Linked DNA regions of Homo sapiens. The protein of the gene in region 1 interacts with the protein of each later gene in a pairwise test. Each region holds a gene or a part of one and is shown on either strand. Other genes may lie near its edges. The genes, in order: TBCB and GAN.

Region 1 (9,149 bases):
TGTAATCCCAGCTACTTGGAAGGCTGAGGCAGGAGACTCACTTGAACCCAGGAGGCGGAGGTCATAGAGGAGCCAAGATCACGCCATTGCACTCCAGCCTGGGCAACGAGCAAAACTCCGCCTCAAAAAAAAAAAATTAAAAAACAGAGCTTGGATTGCTTCTTAGTCTTCTGGCTAAGAATCAAGTGTAAAACAGCTTGGCCAGTGTGCCGGGGTAGGGTCCTGGGAGCCCCTGGCTGTGTCAAGAGACCCCCTTTGGGCCAGGTGCGGTGGCTCATGCCTGTAATCCCAGCACTTTGGGAGGCCAAGGCAGGCGGATCACTTGACGTCAGGAGTTCAAGACTAGCCTGGCCAACATGGTGAAACTCTGTCTCTACCAAAAATACAAAAATTAGCCCGGTGTGGTGGTGCATGCCTGTAGTCCCAGCTACTCAGGAGGCTGAGGCAGGAGAATCGTTTGAACCCGGGAGGTGGAGGTTCCAGTGAGCCAAGATGGTGCCACTGCACTCCAGCCTGGGCAACAAGAGTGAAACTCCGTCTCAAAAAAAGAAAAAAAAATAGGAGACCCCCTTTTACTTTCCAGACTGTGGGAGGGAGGAAGAGTGTTGTCCCAGGCAGTAACTAGGGGCTAGATTATTAACAAACTAGTATTTTAGTGCCTGCTACACCTGAACAGTGCTTCTGGCTGAATGTTAGCCCTGGGAATCTGAAGATCAGAGAGGTGGGGCATCCTACCTGAGGATGCACAGCCTGGATCCTCATTTTGCCCTGATTTATCCAGATCTGCTGTCCTCCCTGCACCCTACAGAGCAGGGCAATCACAGCAGGGGGCCCCTTCAGTGTCCTCAGACAGCTGCTGTGATTTGAATAACCAGGCAGGCTGCTGGATGTCCCCTGGTGACTGATTTGCCTGGCAAACAGACCCTCAACCCCTGGGAGACAGTCCCCCTGGGGCCTTGTTTCTTCTTCCTATCCTCAAAAGCTCCCCAGGCCCATCTCCCCTTGCCTGGCTCTGCTTGGTGGTCCTAGTGCTTGTCCACCCCTGGAGGCTGGATGGTTCCCTCCAAAACCTGGGAGAAGATGGGCAGGTCCCCAGGCAGGGGTAACCTGAGCCAGCTTAGTCCACTCCCAGGGCCAGCCAGGAAATTTGCATGAAGAGAATGAGGTTCCTCAGAGGCTTCCCCTCCTTTCCCACCAGGGATAGTCATCCTGGGGCTGAGGTCTGACAGCAGGTGGAAGCAGCCCCTGTGTGTGGAGAGCCTTCCGGAGGGCATGCCCCGCGCCTTCCTGGTCAGGAGTCGGCGTCCACAGCCCCCCAACTGGGGCCATCTGCCTGACCAGCTCCGGGGAGATGCCTATATCCCAGGTGGGCCCCTCACTGTGCCTGGAGGTAAGGGGCAGGAGAGACGCAGTGTCACCATCTGGCTTTTCTCCTCAGACTGCAGCAGCCTGGGGGGGCCACCGGCACAACAGTCGTCCAGTGTCAGGGATCCGTGGACAGCGGTGAGTGTGTAACTGGCTAGCAAAGCCAGCTGTTTCGCTCCTGCCTGCTCTCAGCCTTAATGAAGCTGACAGCCCCTTGCTCCCCCGACCCATCTGCACACGCCCTCCAGCCTCGGGACCTGTCCGCCCCTACTTCTCTGTGTTGGGAATGCCTCTCCTTTCCTAGTAGTGAGCTCTCTACTGTTAGGTCTCACCCCAGGCACCAGGGCCGGCAGCCACAGGGATCTCTTCCAGCGGGGCACAAGATTCATCCCCACATGTGGATGATCCGCTTTATGTCAGAACATGGGACAAGGCAACAGGAGTGCGATGGGAGATAAGGGCTTTTTCAGCTGTGCATGCATTGGAGGAAGGAAAGCGCCAGCCGGAATGTAATATATTCATGAAAGCAAGGCACTGTTCTAGGCATGGGCTGTTATATTCAGCGGGAATAAGACAAAAATCCACAATTTTATGGAGCTTATATTCTGGTTGGGGCTGCATGTATAGACAATAAAATTAGTCAGCCTGTAATTCCAGCACTTTGGGAGGCCGAGGCGGGTGAATCACTTGAGGTCATGAGTTCGAGACCAGGCTGGCCAACATGTTGAAACCTTGTCTCTACTAAAATTACAAACATTAGCCAGACATGGTGGCACGTGCCTGTAATCCCAGCTCCTCAGGAGGCTGAGGCAGGAGAATCAGTTGAACCTAGGAGGCAGGGCAGAGGATGCAGTGAGCCGAGTCTGCGCCACTGCACTCCAGCCTGGGAAACAGATCTAGACTCCATCCCCCCTCAAAAAAAACAATAAAATTAGAAAAATAGACCGGGCATAGTGGCTCATGCCTGTAATCCCAGCACTTTGTGAGGCCAAGGTGGGTGGATTGCTTGAGGTCAGGAATTCAAGACCAGCCTGGCCAACATGGTGAAACCCCATCTCTACAAAAAATAAAAAAATTAACTGGGCATGTGGCGCATGCCTACAATCGTGTAATCGTGGGGAGGCTGAGGCACTAGAATCGCTTGAACCCGGGAGGCGGAGGTTGCAGTGACCTGACATCATACCACTTCACTCCTGCCTGGGCGACAGAGCAAGACTCTGTCTTTAAAAAAAAAAAATGTGTATGTCACATCAGAAGATGGGACTTGGCATAGAGAAAGTAAGGACCATGGGATAGTGAGGGAAGGCCCTGGAGAGTGACAGGCACACACACTAATCACTGTCTCCCACCTGCCTTCCTAATCCTCCGTGGTGGCTCAGGACACTCTGTAAATACTCATTTGCAGAGTAACAAAGGGTGGATGGGGTCCAGCCAGAGAGGCTAATAACTCCTGCATCCCTCCAGCAGCCCACACAGGGCAACCTGACCTCTGCTCCCAGGGGCCCTGGGACGCTGGGCTGCCCGCTCTGCCCTAAGGCCTTCCCTCTGCAGCGCATGCTGACAAGGCACCTCAAGTGCCACAGCCCCGTGCGCCGCCACCTGTGCCGCTGTTGTGGCAAGGGCTTTCATGACGCCTTCGATCTCAAGCGCCACATGAGGACTCACACTGGTGAGCAGTGGCAGGGACAGGGAAAAGTTGCTGGGCCCCAGGTGGGGATGGAAGGAAATGGAGAGAGGTGCTGGGCTGTGGAGTGTCCATGGTTTGTGTATGTGGGGTATGGAGAATCAAGACATGATGTCTCTCGGACCCCAGTGGGTGGGTGTAAGGTGGCACCAAAATAGGGGCCTGTCACGGAATGCAGAGTGCAGACGGATGCCGGTTATACGATTCAGGCTCCAGATCGAAAGGCAAGGGAAGGCCTCCCTCTCCATCCCCCAGGGGAGGGAGCATCCTGGTGAGGGAGAGTGGAGACACAGGTGTCTGGCCCATGTCTGCACTGGGTGACGGTAGCAGATGGTGGGTCATGGGCGGAAGAGTCTGAAGAGCTTGGAATAGGTACCAGAAATGCTCAACACTGGAAAGCAGGGTGGGGGCGCTTTAGTCCAGAGCCCATTGCCCTCTCTGTCCAGCCCTCCCCTCTGCGCCCATCTGTGCAGGGATCCGGCCCTTCCGCTGCAGTGCTTGCGGGAAAGCGTTTACGCAGCGCTGCTCCCTGGAAGCTCACCTTGCTAAGGTGCATGGACAGCCGGCCAGCTACGCTTACCGTGAGCGCCGCGAGAAGCTGCACGTGTGCGAGGACTGCGGCTTCACCAGCTCCCGGCCCGACACCTACGCACAGCACCGCGCCCTGCACCGCGCAGCCTGATACGGTGTGCCAGCGTCCTCCCCACGAGGCAAATAAACACAGAAAACTCACGCATGGAATCTGGTGTTTATTACACTCGGGGGAGAGAGGAGGTCACTCGGTCCAGCGGTGGCCGCAGTGTGGGGCTGTGCACACGTAGTAAAGGCGCATGGCGTCCTGGCAGAAATGATGCATGGTTAGGAAGGATTTGGACCCAGCAGCGCCTTACCCCAAAAGAACAGGCAAGAGAACTTCACCAATAGGTAAGGGCCCGGCAGAGTTCCAAGAAGCGCAGGGTCACCCACATTGATATCCCCGCCCCCAGAAAGGACCAAACAAGCCCCAGATACTTAGAAAGCCCTCGCGCCACTTACCTCGGCCCGCGCACTGTGTGACTGGAAGAACACAGCCTCCTTGTGGCCGCACCTGAGAGGGTAGGGGCTCGGTCACCGGAGGCTTCACACCCTTCCCTCCTCCCTTCGCCCAGTGAGGAGACGAGCCTCACTTTACCTCCCCAGTACCAGCTGAACGCTCACTTTTGGCACGGGTGGTCCTCGGTCCGCGGCAACGTGGGGTCCTGGGACACGTCGGCGATAATCTGGGTCAGTTCGCTGCAGGGACGCGGGGGTGCAAAATTACGCTCAGACCCAGCCTCCAGAGCCAACACCCCCGCCCCCAGCTCAGGGCCCGCCACTCACTCCACTTCGTGCGTGATCTTGTTGACATAGATGCAGCTGTTGTCGGCCTCCTGCTGGTAATCACAGTTCCGGCACTACGAGAGGGCGAGTGTGGGGGAAAGGGGGTCACGGAAGGATTCCAGACAAGATTGGGAGGAGAGGGCAGGGTGATCCCGGAGGATATGACGACAGGACTCTCTTTGGGGATGGGCAGGACATGAGAGTCAGGATCACTTGAGGTGCAGCGGAGGGCGAACAGGGAGTCCGATCACAGAGGCAGGGGGCAGGGCGGGGCCACGCTGGGAACAGGTGGACCTGCCGGGGAAGACCCCGGCGCTCACCGCGTAGAGCAGAATGCGGTTCTCCTTGTCTTCCTTGGGGTACAGCATGTTGTTACTGTGGGGAGGGGGAGGTGCCAGGGGTTAGTTCTGGAGCCATTCCTCGCCCGCCTTCTAACATCACCCGCTCCCTCCGCCTCACCATTCCTGGCAGAAGCGAATACCCACGAAGCCCGGCTCGTAAGTCCCGTCGGGCTCCATGGCGACGCGCAGCCCGCGCAGCCCTCCCAGCCTTCCGCGCTTGCTCCGCCGCGCTACAGGTCGCGGGAGGGGCCAGGCCTAGGTGCTTCGCCAAAAGAGGGCGGAGCTGCGCACACGTGCTGGCTCCCCGCCGCCTCGGGCTCGGCTCTCTCCGCGCAGAGGTTTCATGGCTTGCTTCAATCTTTTGATATCTTAGAGTAATTGCTTCCAATTTTTGGGCATCGCCGCCTCAGTTTACAGAATAGTATGGATCTGGTGCCAGAGCCGGGAAAACGATGCGCATCGTAAACCGCAAAACACTGAGCATCCAGGACAGAAGCCAAGGCGCTTGGCTTGGTTGAAGGCCAGTGCGCATGCGCGAGTTTACCCTTCGCGGACTGGGCGAGCTCTTGCCACTCCTACCTCCGGGCTTCAGTCTTCGCCGCCTGTTCTGGTCCTTTCCCGGGCCGCTATTGGAAGAACCGTGAACTATGGAAGGCCCCTCTGGATTGGCTGGGCTGGCCCAAGAGTAAGGAGAGCCCTCTTCCTGGCGGTGGGGAAGGGACGGCGGCGATTGGCGGACGCTCCTGGCAGGAGAGCGCGGATTGGTCAGGCACGGAGCAGGAGGCGGGGCTGATAGCCCAGCAGCAGCAGCGGCGGCGGCGGCTGCGGAGCGGGTGTGAGGCGGCTGGACCGCGCTGCAGGCATCCGCAGGGCGCGGCAAGATGGAGGTGACGGGGGTGTCGGCACCCACGGTGACCGTTTTCATCAGCAGCTCCCTCAACACCTTCCGCTCCGAGAAGCGATACAGCCGCAGCCTCACCATCGCTGAGTTCAAGGTGTGGCCATGGGGGCGGGGTCCGGAGGGGCGGGGCGAAGAAATTGGGGGGTTCCCGGAAGGGGGAGGCTGGGAGGGGCCGGGGAGTGACTGGGCGGGCCCGGAGGTGATCCCAGGCTGCGGAGGCTGGGGACCCGGTCGCGGCGGGGCGGGTCCGGAGAGAACTCGAGAGTGCAGAGATGAGGGCCGGGTCCAGCGAAAAATCCGACGGTCCAGAGGGCGGGGGCAAGAGGCGAGGGGCTGGATTGCGGCCCCGTGCGTCCTGACTGGGGGGTCTTTTGGAGGAAAAGGGACGTGGCGATGGTCATTGATGCAAGGGGCGGGGCCTCCGTGGCCTCCTTCTTCTCACCCTGCCTCCTCCTCACAGTGTAAACTGGAGTTGCTGGTGGGCAGCCCTGCTTCCTGCATGGAACTGGAGCTGTATGGAGTTGACGACAAGTTCTACAGCAAGCTGGATCAAGAGGATGCGCTCCTGGGCTCCTACCCTGTAGATGACGGCTGCCGCATCCACGTGAGGACTCTCTATCTGGGACACTCCCCCACCCCACCTTTCATTTGGTTATTCAACAGACACTTGCTGGGCTTTGCCCTCAGTCATACCCGAGATAGGTCCTGCCTTCGTGGAGCCTCCAGTGCAGCCTGACGAGAGACAGACCCATCATTAGACAGGGACAGCCTAGAGTGGTCTGGGCTGGGATCAGGAAATCCCAGGGGACTGGAGCCACCAAGAAGAGGTGCCTGACTCCACCTGGGAGAATCAGAGAGGGCTTCCTGGAGGAAGGGATGTCTGAGCTGAGGGATGAGGAAAGGGTGACTTAAGAGAAAGAGGTGGAAAGGAGGGAGCAGGGTGTACAGAGGCCTAGAATGTGAGGTAGGTCACAGTGAGCGACCAGGCTGGACAGCTTGGGAGAAACCAGAACACAGGATCTCTTTGTGCATCCACTCAGTACATCCTTTCTGTCTTTTTTTGAGACAGAGTCTCACTCTGTCACCCAACCTGGAATGGAGTGCAGTGGCACTATCGGGCTCACTGCAGCCTTCACCTCCTGGGTTCAAGTGATCCTTGTGCCCCAGCCTCCCGAGTAGCTGGGATTACAGGTGCCCACCCAGCTAATTTTTGTATTTTTAGTAGAGATGGGTTTTTGCCATGTTGGCCAGGCTGGTCTGGAACTCCTGACCTCAAGTGATCAGCTCACCTTGGCCTACTAAAGTGCTGGGATTACAGGCGTGAGCCACCAAGCCCAGCCCCTTTCTGTCCTTATTCCCTCCCGACCTCACTCAGTCTGTAGCAGCCACATTGCTCCTTGCACAGTCCAGGTGAGCTCGGCCTCTGGATCCTGGGCCTGAATGGTTCTTTTGTCATATGCCTGCGTGCCTCACCCTTCCTTCCTGTCTTAATTTAAAGTGTCAGTATTCTAGTGAAGTCTTCACCGGCCTCAGTGTTAACGTTTACCTCATTCCTTTCCCCTTCTTTGCTTTATTTTAGATTTTTGTGTTTACAAGTAATTCTCCTCTGACACACTCTGGATTTCTCTCATCTGGTTTATTTACTCTCTGTCTCCCTGGATTCGAGTGCCCTGAGGGTGGAAATTTTGATCACTATAATTCACTACTGTGTCCCCAGTACTTGGAATAGTGCCTGGGACAGGGAGGATAGTCCGTGAATCGTTTTTTGTTTTGTTTTGTTCGAGACAGAGTTTTGCCCTTGTTCCCCAGGCCGGAATGCAGTGGTGTGATCTCAGCTCACTGCAACCTCTGTCTCCTGGGTTCAAGCTATTCTCCTGCCTCAGCCTCCCAAGTAGCTGGGATTACAGGTGTGCACCACCACGCCTGGCTAATTTTGTAATTTTGTATTTTAAGTAGAGTTGGGGTTTCACCATGTTGGCCAGGCTGGTCTTGAACTCCTGACCTCAAGTGATCTGCCCACCTCAGCCTCGCAAAGTGCTGGGATTACAGGCATGAGCCACCACGCCCAGCCCTGTGAATCATTGTTGAATGATGAATTGAATCCATAAAGTAAGACCACAAGGATAATGTAATTATCCCCATTTTGCAGAAGAGAAAATTTAGCTTCAGGGTGGAGTTTATTTATTTATTTTTTATTTTTTTTGAGACAGAGTCTTGCTCTGTCTCCCAGGCTGGCGTGCAGTGGCATGATCTCGGCTCACTGCAACCTCCGCCTCCCCGGTTCAAGCGATTCTCCTGCCTCAGCCTCCCGAGTAGGTGGGATTACAGATGCCCGCCACTACACCAGGGTAATTTTTGTATTTTTAGTAGAGACGGGGTTTCACCATGTTAGTCAGACTGGTCTCGAACTCCTGACCTCAGGTAATCCGCCCACCTCGGCCTCCCAAAGTGCTGGGATTACAGGCATGAGCCACCGCACCCGGCCCAGAATCTACTTTCTTAAGGATGAACTGTCAGTAGCATTTTGGCCCCAGTCTACATGACTCTAGAGAGAACTGCTTCTTTTTTCTCTCGTTGATTAACTGTTCATTCCCCATCTGTGTTGTGCCAGGGGTTTCATTATGACTGCATCTGAGAAGTTCTAGTGTATGAGGCAGATGTTGGCTAAATGGCCAGAGGACTGAATGTGAAGGGTCAGGGGAGACAAGGGTTGTGTAGGAGATCATGAAGCTGGGAGACCCTATCCTGGGGTACCTGATGCATCAGTGACGTCTGGGAGGACATCCTGGAGGTGGTGCTGCTGGAGCAGAGACGAGAAGAATAAAAAGAATTGGTCGGGCATGGTGGTTCACGCCTGTAATCCCAGTGCCTTGGGAGGCTGAGGTGGACAGATCACTTAAGGTCAGGAGTTCGAGACGGTGAAACCCCGTCTCTCCTAAAAATACAGAAATTAGCTGGGCGTGGTGGCAGATGCCTGTAATCCTAGCTACTCAGGAGGCTGAGGCAGGAGGATCACTTGAACCCAGGAGCTGGAAGTTGCAGTGAGCTGAGATCACACCACTGCACTCCAGTTTGGATGATAGAGTGAGATCCTATCTTTAAAAAAAAAAAAAAAAAAAAGGTTAACTGAAGATGGGGAAGGGGTGCCCTAGGAGTGGGGCACAACCCAGCAAACACTCCAAGGTGGGAGGGAGCGCGGTGGGGATTAAGACAGGCCACTTCTGTGGCCAAACACTGTGGAAGCTGGGGAGGACCCTGACCTGGCTCAGGTGTTCACAGGCCCCCTCTGGCTGTGTGTGGGGAACAGGTGGTGGAGGACAGGAAGAGTAGGGAGACCAGGAAGGGGCTGCTGTGAGAGTCCTGATGAGGGGACGAGGTCTGGAGCTGTGGGTCAGGCCTCTGCTGGGTGCACAGGACTGAGCCTTTGGGCCACCCTGGGCAGCTGAAGCTAAGGGGTGCGGGTGTTCATAGGCACCTCATAGGCAGTGGCATCTTTGAG
Region 2 (8,843 bases), on another chromosome or scaffold:
TTGTGTAAACTTTACTGTTAGCTGGCTTACAATATCTTAGAATTAAAATGTTTATCAAGCACTTTTACATACTGTGTCATTTTGGTTTCCATTTTCAATCATCTTTAAAGAGAAGGCAGATTTTTTTTTTTTATGTTTTGTGGATAAACATGAATCAGTCAATATGTGTTTCATCAGTGACAGATGAATTGCTTTAAGTTTATTTGGCTATTGAAGTGATAGAATGTCTTGGGATGTTTTTAAAAATTATCAATTCCGAAGCTGTTTCAAAGTAATTTGACGAATCTGTATCACTAACTAGAAAGAAATTTGTTAATTTTGTATTTTTACTGGTAATTTTAATACCAATAATATTGGGCTTTTATAATGTACTTGTTTGTTTGAATAGCACTTTAGAGAATTATATTGAAACAAAATATATTTATGTATTCTAGAACTTGATGTTTCTTATCTTTCCCTTTTGAAACTTAAGCATTTAGATCTGTGATATCATTAATCTGTGAATTGAATGTTCAAAAGTTTGGTAATCTCTGAAGTTTTATAAAATTCTGATTTTGTTTAATGTCTGTGTTTGGCCTAGTGTTGGTAACTGTCATAAGTGGTTGTGTGATTGTGTGGTTTAGAAGCAGTGGTATGGCCTGGCATGGTAGCTCACACCTGTAATCCTAGCACTGTGAGAGGTGGAGGCGGGAGGATCGTTTGAGGTCAGGAGTTCGAGACTAGCCTGGGCAACATAGTGAGACCCAGTCTGTACAATAATAAATCATGTATATAAAAAATAGGAGCAGTATTGTCTTTTGCTTACTATGTGCCCAACAAAGGAAGCCAGTCCAACTCTGTCACACTGGGAATTAAAGTAACTTGTTTGGCATACTTTCTACTTAATATAGAAAAGTCTTTTGACTTATTGGTTTAATCTTTTATTCTGCTTTATCTTTGGTCTAGCCCTTGTTTTTCCTGCTGACACCCTTAGCAATCCTACCATATTAGAAAGATTTTAAATATAAAAGGAAAAGGCCAGAAAACTCAGCTTTGGCAACACACCCTCATGGTCAGCTCAGAGAGGACTGGCATCCCCGGGTTATGTAGAGAGAGCACGTGTCATGCAGCCCTAGGGTGCAGCTGCTCCAGGAAGGAGGCAGGACCTCCTGCGGTCCCTCAGCTCAGTAAATGGCATGCATGCCCCTTTCCCAGCATGCTCCTTTCCCAAAGCTTTTCCTCCTTTTGGTTCCTGGGTGAGATTTTCTCTTTGGTTTGTTGGGGAAACTAAACCTAAAAGTAGTTGACAGGCTGGGCGCAGTGGCTCATGGCTGTAATTACAGCACTTCGGGAGGCTGAGGCGGGAGGATCCCTTGACCCCGGGAGTTCCAGGATGCAGTGAGCTATGACTGCCACTGCACTGCAGCCTGCCTGGGTGACAGAGACCCTGTCTCTTAAATTAAAAAAAAAATAGATATAGATTATATATATATATATATATCTAACAACCTTTCTAAGAATGGCAAAACCGAATTCATAGTCATAAGCACCCACAGAGCCTTTTCTTTCTCATCAACTCTGAGACCTTCTGGGGAAAGCTCCCTGCGGCTTGCAGGAAATTTATTTTTCTTTTGAATATTACAGTTTGGTCTGCTTCATGTCTGAGGCTCTTCCGATTCTGGCACAGTCCCATTGATCTGATGCAAAGTTCAGACCCATTTCTCTCCTGAGCTGTGGTTCTTGGTGAGTAATGTATGTGAAAAGGATTTGAAAATGAACGGCTATGTGCTTCTGCAGTGACATTATGGTGGCTCTGTACAGGTTTCCAGTCCTGTGATCACTTGTAAAATTTAGGGTTTTCTGGAGACCTATTGCAACAAAAGTTTGTTTAGCTCTCAGTCCTGGAGAGAAAATGAAAAAAAAGATTCCTAAGATTTTTAGATCCTTTGATGAGTCAGCTAAGAATGTAAGTGGCTTCCCCCCGACCCCCCCTTATTTTTTGAGAGAAGGCAGGTCTAGTGAGGATAGAATGAGACATAGGGCCTCAAATCCAGCCTAGGTCATCATGAGCGACTTTTCTGGGCTCTAGCTTCCTTATCTGTGAAGTGAGGTGGTTGGGCTACATGGACAGCAAATCCCCTTTAAGTCTAAGTTATGTAGCTCTATGCTATTTTTGTTTTGCCTCATGTGTATGTGTTGTGAGGAGGAGGACCTGTTTCTGTTTTTATAGCTTTATTGTGTCATTTAAAGTTTTGTTTTATGTTAATATTAAAGCATTTCCATTCCCCTGTCATACAGGACTTTATTGGGTATTCTGTTGTATAAATCCAGGCCTGTAGAGTTGTATCACAACAATCATTTATTTTATGCTGTTAATCTGGGTATGTTCCAAGGCCTAATTATTGATGAGCCTGTTTTGCCATTTAAATATAAAGTTTGACTCACAGATGATACTGATGAAACTACTTAAGGAGACTAATAGGATCTCTGTAGGAGGTCCAAGTTTCATAGTAACATAGACATTATTTTTTGAATATCTGAAACATACACTGTAGTTTAATGTCACATGGGCACTAAAGTCCGTGAGTACTATGTGGTGTGTGCAGAGCCTGCTTTTCATCCCCAGTTTACTTTTGTTGATTAATTTATGTGAATAACTGCATAGCCTCTTATTAGATTCTTTGCTTCCCTGTTAATGCTGAGAATACACTCCCGAGGCAGCAGTATCCACTAAGTGTTCCCTGGTAATGAGAGTCTGGCTGTGAAGCAAAGTGATTTCACAGTAATGTTCAGTTAATAATGTTTTGCTTTCTTTACAATATTTTCATAATCTTTTCTTCACTTGTGTTTCGAGTTTATAGTCTTCATAGCAGCTCCCGAATGATTGTCATAAGGATCTTGAATAGTGATTGTAGCCTGTGAAGTTTCTTAGTGCTCAGGGGTTCAGTTAGAAGCTCCAGTTTCTGAGTATCTTTTGAAATCCTGAGCACACTTAAAATAAAATTGACATTACCTGTTCCTTGTACTCTTATGGTGATGGAAAATAAGCTGGGCTTGAGTCTCTTTTAAGGGATCTAGACTTTGTTTTTATCTACTTACTATAAGGCGTTCCTAACAACTGCTCAGAAGATGAAATTTGTCCAGAAGGTCTTGATAGTTTAATGGTTCTCAGTGATTTTCCTTTTCTTTTTTTTTTCCTTTTTTCTTTTTTGTAATCACAACCTTGTTTGATTAAACCCTATTCTTACTGAGTTTTTCAAAAGCGATAATAACTATGTTCAGTTTCAGAAGATCAAAGACATATTTTATCCAGGCTTCTAAGGAAACTAAGCACTTGTAAATTTCAATTTAACACAGATTACTCATGTCAGTTTAAAGATATTTGTTTATTTTATATAACACAGTGGTTGCCACTATTAGTAGCAGTAGATGTTCTAATTCTGGAGAGGTTTTTGGAAGGTTTCAAATGATGAAACAAATCAACAAAATTCTTGTTAGACTAGTGTCTGTAGCATAGAGGGAAGTGTGGGGTGTTCAGATTTATCGTAGAACTTTCCCGAGGATTGTTATTATGAGTAATAGTAATGTGATAGGAGTAAAACCTAGCTCTGGTTAATTTTCTCTAGTGGATAAGTCCTCACTCTTTTACCTATACTGTTTTTACTTCTGCCTCTTCTTATAGTTTGCATTTTCTCCTGTGATGTCTCCTTCAATGTTCTTAAATTAGTTTTTGTTATATAATTTAGGATTGAAGTAAAATGCTCTTCCACATAGAAACTCTGGTTCCTTAGGATTTATATTTGGATGATATAGAGTAAGCATCCAGTTTTCAAAACCGCCTTATCCATTGTTTAAAGTGTTAATGAGTTCTTATGATATCAAAGTGGGACTTAAAATCTATTTATAATTTGTAAGGAAAACATAATTAGGACAAATAAGGGTTCATTTGGTCTGTGAGTGCCATGCAATAAGTTCTTCACAGGGTTGCATCATCCTTCTGAAAGACACAAGACTATCATTTTGTGTACTAAAGCTGTAATATAAATGAATGATTTGTGAGTTTGAATTCTGGGTTAAGGGTGGAGATACGGGGGTGTGAGATGTGACACGTGGCAGGCTATGGTTGCGACCTTGCATTTGAGCGCTTCCCATGGGTTCTCTTCCTCCTAAGCCACAACAAATCCAAAGAAGGAAGGAAATCAAAGGCTCAGGTAAAGGTGGCAGCTCTGGCTCTGTGGAGGATAAAGATTCTATGTCCATCTAGATGGCCCGACACTCTACCAGAGTTCCTGATTCTGGTGCTTGGAAGAGCAGAGTTAAATCATCTTCCTAAGTACTTAGGGCCAAAGAGTGACTTAGCCATAGAATGATGGTCAGATGTTTGCTGCATTCATTTCTCTCTGGGAATGTGAATGCCCTAATTTCTCATAAAGATTATTACAGAAATACTGCAAAATAGAAATACGTAGTACTTTGCCATTTGCTATTATAGTGAAGGGATTTGGACTTTTCCTCTGTTCAAATAAGTTAGAAAAATGGAATACTTAGGTAAATAAGATCTTGGTGAAATATTTTGTTGGTTATCTCCAGTGTTCACCACATGCAGAGGAGATAAGACATCTCAGCAGCGGCTAGGTACTAGCAAGATGGTGGCAACCAACTGGCAAGGCCTTTGCCCTTCTGGAGCCTCCATTTCAATAGAGTAAGGCTTAGAGGGCCAATGCGTATCATAAATGGAAGATAGGAGGACTAGTTTTTAAAAGTTGACTGTTGAATAATGAAATACAGACCAATTAAATATCTTTGGGGTTTATTTGGATTTGAGTTTTTATAGAAACTTAAATGTATATTTTTGCTCGTAGATATTTTGTGGTTCTCTCAACTACAAAGTTGTTTATGTTTTTAAGAACAATTTTAAAGACCATTTGATGCTTGTGATTTTTATGGTAACATATTAATATGACTAGATATATTTTGAAACATAGTTTTATGGTCCTATTAGCATTCATCAGTAACCAGTTGCCTACACCTCTGAATAATAGTAAATGGTTTAGTATTACTGAGCTCAAAATATTTGCACTTTTGTCACTTAAATTGTTTATATTGATCAGTCCCTGAATTGTAAGAAACTTCATACTGAAACCTCACATTTAGGCTGTGAGTTTGATATGAGTCTTTTCTAACCCACAGAGAACATTCACTAGAAATGAAGCCAGAAGTTTAAGGACAGCGGGATTTTGAAGGACAATGAAAATCCTTAGAAAGTTCCCTGATATTCGTGTTTGCCATTCTCCTCTCCATGCTACAGCCCCCAGTCTACTTCAGTGATGGAGCTGGAGGCCAGCAGGACCCATTGGTTAATTGTATAGTCTTCCATTTGGTTAGTCCAGGGAATAGTTTCCCACAACTTCTAGCTTCTCTTCCTTACATGAAAGTTGGTACAGGGATTTGACACTTAGTATAACAGATAAGAGACTTCTCTCGGGGTTTTTGGTGGGTTTGTTTGTTCTCCTGCTTGGCCTCCTTAACAGCTACTGTCTTGTGCGACCAAAGCTATCAACTTTGTTCCCCGCCTAAAAATTACAATGCCTGCTGTTGGTAGGAAAGGAATAGACATCTCATTTTTATCACCCCCTGAGTGGGGTGCTTGAGCAAAAGAGGTTACCATTTCCTTTATTTATAGGCTTCTTTCATAGTGATCAGAAAAGGGGTTATGAAAATATTCACTGTCATAATAAGTCTTGGGACATCCTTAAGAAATGTCATCACTGCCTTAACCCATATGCTGTGGGGTTGTGTTTACCAATAATAGATTGCAGTTCAAGAATTAGCATTGTCTAAAGTTATTGAGATATACTGTGTATTGTTTCTTCACAGATATATTTCACAGTAAAGGGACCTTCTATATAATTAGGGTGTTGTTTAGGGAGTTGATTACAGGTTTAGTCGTTTAATACATACACAGGAGATAACTCAAGACATCTCAGCAGCATCTATGTACTGGCAAGATGGTGGCAACGAACTGACAAGGCCACTGTCCTCCTGGAGCCTCCATTTCAGTCATTTACAGAGGATTGCGCCCTCCAGGACTCCATCCTCTTGTGCTGCCTGCCATTGGAGCATTGTATTCAGTGGCCTCCCACAGAGAGTATCAAAACTAACCCAGTATGTGGAGACCTATGTCAGTCTATTTATTTTTCTATCTCTGTGGGGCTGGAGAAGGAAATAAACATAAAACTAAAGATTTAAAGATTACTTTTGATTTCACTTAGTTTTTTTATAACATCCTTGTGTTATGGGTAGTTTCAGAATCTCAAGAATGAGCAGAGAATAGATTTGCTGTGTTTATCAGAGTAGAAACTTCTGATAGTCTGCCCTAAAAGAATTTAATTGGCTGATTTGACCCTTTATTATTATAGTGTTACCCCAATTAATCACATTTACAGAAATGACTTTCTTTAAGTAGAGAACATCAGTTCTTGGCTAAGCCTCTCTAATATGCCCGTTTGTTCATTGCCCTTTCTAGACGGAGTGCCAGCATCCATGGGGGCTACCTGGGGAGGTGAGCAGTAAAGGGGTCTAATTACAGAGCCATATGAGTTTGCCGAAGGAAGTCCACAGAGGATGAGCATGGCTGCTGCTGTGGCCTGGGTGACGGGATCCCTGCTCCGAGGTGGTGCCATTGAAACTGAGATCTGAGGGAGGAGGAGACCTAGGCATGAGAAGAGCAGGGGGAGGCACCAGGATCAGGGGTGGCACCAGGACTAGGTCAGGCCTCTCTGGGAACAGAACACCACATACCTGGAGATGGTGAGCAAAGGGTGGGATGGCATCGACAACAGATTAGAGGCTGGGAAGGCCTGTGATCCCTGAGTTAGAGCTGGCATTTAGACTGCTTCCAAAGAAGATGAAACTTCTGCTGCCATGTTGTGTATTGGGAGCTGGCTGGGGAGGTGATAGGATATGAGAAAGGGACAAAAAAGCAATTGATGGCATAGTTGAGTCTGATAGAGAGTTTAGGCTTTATCTTACGGGCTATGGATGGGCAGTGGTGTATTTTAAAAGAGGAATATTTGTTTGTGTATTGTTTTAAAGTCACTCCAATGCAGTGCTGCTGGGTGTGCTCTATAAAAGCCAAGAGTGGAACCAGCGGCCGTTTCAGCAGGTGCTGCAGTTGTTCAGATGGAAAGTGGGATGCCCTGGGCCAGGTTTGGCAGTGGAGGCGGACACAGCAGCTGGATTACAGACATTTGGCACCAGGACATGTTGATGAGGAAAAGGGCAGACCAGGGATGACTCGCAGCCAGGGATGGCTCCCAGGCAGGGATGGCTCCCAGGCACGGATGCTCCCAGGCATGCTGTTGGCTTCTTCATCGTCACCAACAGATGATGTTCATCACACTTACAGTAGGCATTAAAGTCAGGACAGTTTAGGAAGACTAGTGAAATACAGAGCTTACTCTCAAGTTTTACAGCTTAGTTGTGAAAAAACAAAGTATAGAACAAAAGCTATTTTAATTTTACAGATACTTCTAGCTGTAGGAATTGCGAGGGGAAGAACTACTTGGGCGATCACATATGGAGGAAATGGTATTTGAACAAAGCCTTGGAGAGGATGAGTAGGAGTTGGGTGGGTGAAAGGGGACAGCAGGGCCATTGAGGCAGAACAAAGGATAAATGCAGGAACATCAGGCTTGTGTTTGGGGTAGTGAATAGGAACAGTGGCTGGGAGGAAGGTAAGACATATTCTAGCATGCCGGGTTATTGGTTTAGATTTTTACTTTATCATCAGTTGCTAATCATTAAAGACTAGTACCATACTGAAGCCCTACTTTAAGAAGGCATTTAGTTGCTGTGTATCTACAGGACCAGGAAGGGATGAACATGGAGCTACTAGACCAATTGAGAGCAGCGCACTGGGACAGTGTCCTAGGCATCAAGATGGTGGTGGGTCTCCAGAATTAAGGAGGAAATCAACTGGATGCTAATTGAACATGAGAACTAAGAATGAAGAAAAAAGAAGAGATAACAGTTTTGAGCCTGGCTGCCTAGGGAAAGTGGGGAAGACAACAGTCTGTCTTAAATGTGTTGAATTTGAATTAACATTGCTGTTTAAACACCTTAATTATATTCTTCTAGCCCTTGACAGCTCTGCAGAGTACTTCACCTGTCTGTGAATATGTTTTGCTTTCTGCATGTGTTTCTTGTCTCTCTGCCTTTCTTGACTTCCTACTCTTGCTTGCAGATAATTTCATATTCATCCTTCAAGGCCTGGTTCAAGTATCCCTTCCTCTGTAAGATTTTTCCAACTCTGCCAAATAATCACTCCCTCCAGCAGACTCCTTTAGTTCATGGTGTGTGCCTTCAGCAAGGAGTGCATCATCGCCTCATTTAGTGTGGAAAACCAGTAGACATATGGAGTGGGTGATTTTAAAGCCCATCATCTTTTTTGTCCAGGGCCAGGGGCACTCAGTCCGTAAGCAGAACTTTCATACGTAAGATAATTGAGTTGGTTGGGTGCCGTGGCTCAAGCCTATAATCCCAGCACTTTGGGAGGCTGAAGCGGGCAGATCACCTGAGGTTGGGAGTTCGAGACTAGCCTGACCAACGTGGAGAAACACCATCTCTACTAAAAATACAAAAAAAAAAAAAAAAAAAATTAGCCAGATGTGGTGGCACATGCCTGTAATCCCAGCTACTCGGGAGGCTGAGGCAGGAGAATTGTTTGAACCCGGGAGGCGGAGGTTGCGAGGAGACGAGATCGCGCCATTGCGCTCTAGCCTGGGCAACAAGAGTGAAACTCCGTCTCAAAAAAAAAGGATAATTGAGTTGTCTGTGATATGTATGTACAGTCAGCATTGCTT

What was found.
Region 2: the proteins of TBCB (region 1) and GAN interact in binary tests that used the Homo sapiens proteins (3 or more experiments, as listed by UniProt).

The regions. Positions count from the first base shown.
Region 1 is NC_000019.10:36,109,931-36,119,079, forward strand, and holds the start of TBCB (tubulin-folding cofactor B), read left to right. Parts: upstream 1-5,537; 5' UTR 5,538-5,630; coding exon 5,631-5,744; intron 5,745-5,839; exon of another isoform or gene 5,840-5,998; intron 5,999-6,110; coding exon 6,111-6,254; intron 6,255-9,149. Other genes in the region: OVOL3 (putative transcription factor ovo-like protein 3), read left to right, coding at 1,273-1,366, 1,439-1,503, 2,830-3,034, 3,523-3,731; POLR2I (DNA-directed RNA polymerase II subunit RPB9), read right to left, coding at 3,825-3,887, 4,085-4,136, 4,247-4,321, 4,409-4,482, 4,729-4,783, 4,868-4,926.
Region 2 is NC_000016.10:81,317,746-81,326,588, forward strand, and holds part of GAN (gigaxonin), read left to right. Parts: intron 1-8,843. UniProt on the Homo sapiens protein: Probable cytoskeletal component that directly or indirectly plays an important role in neurofilament architecture.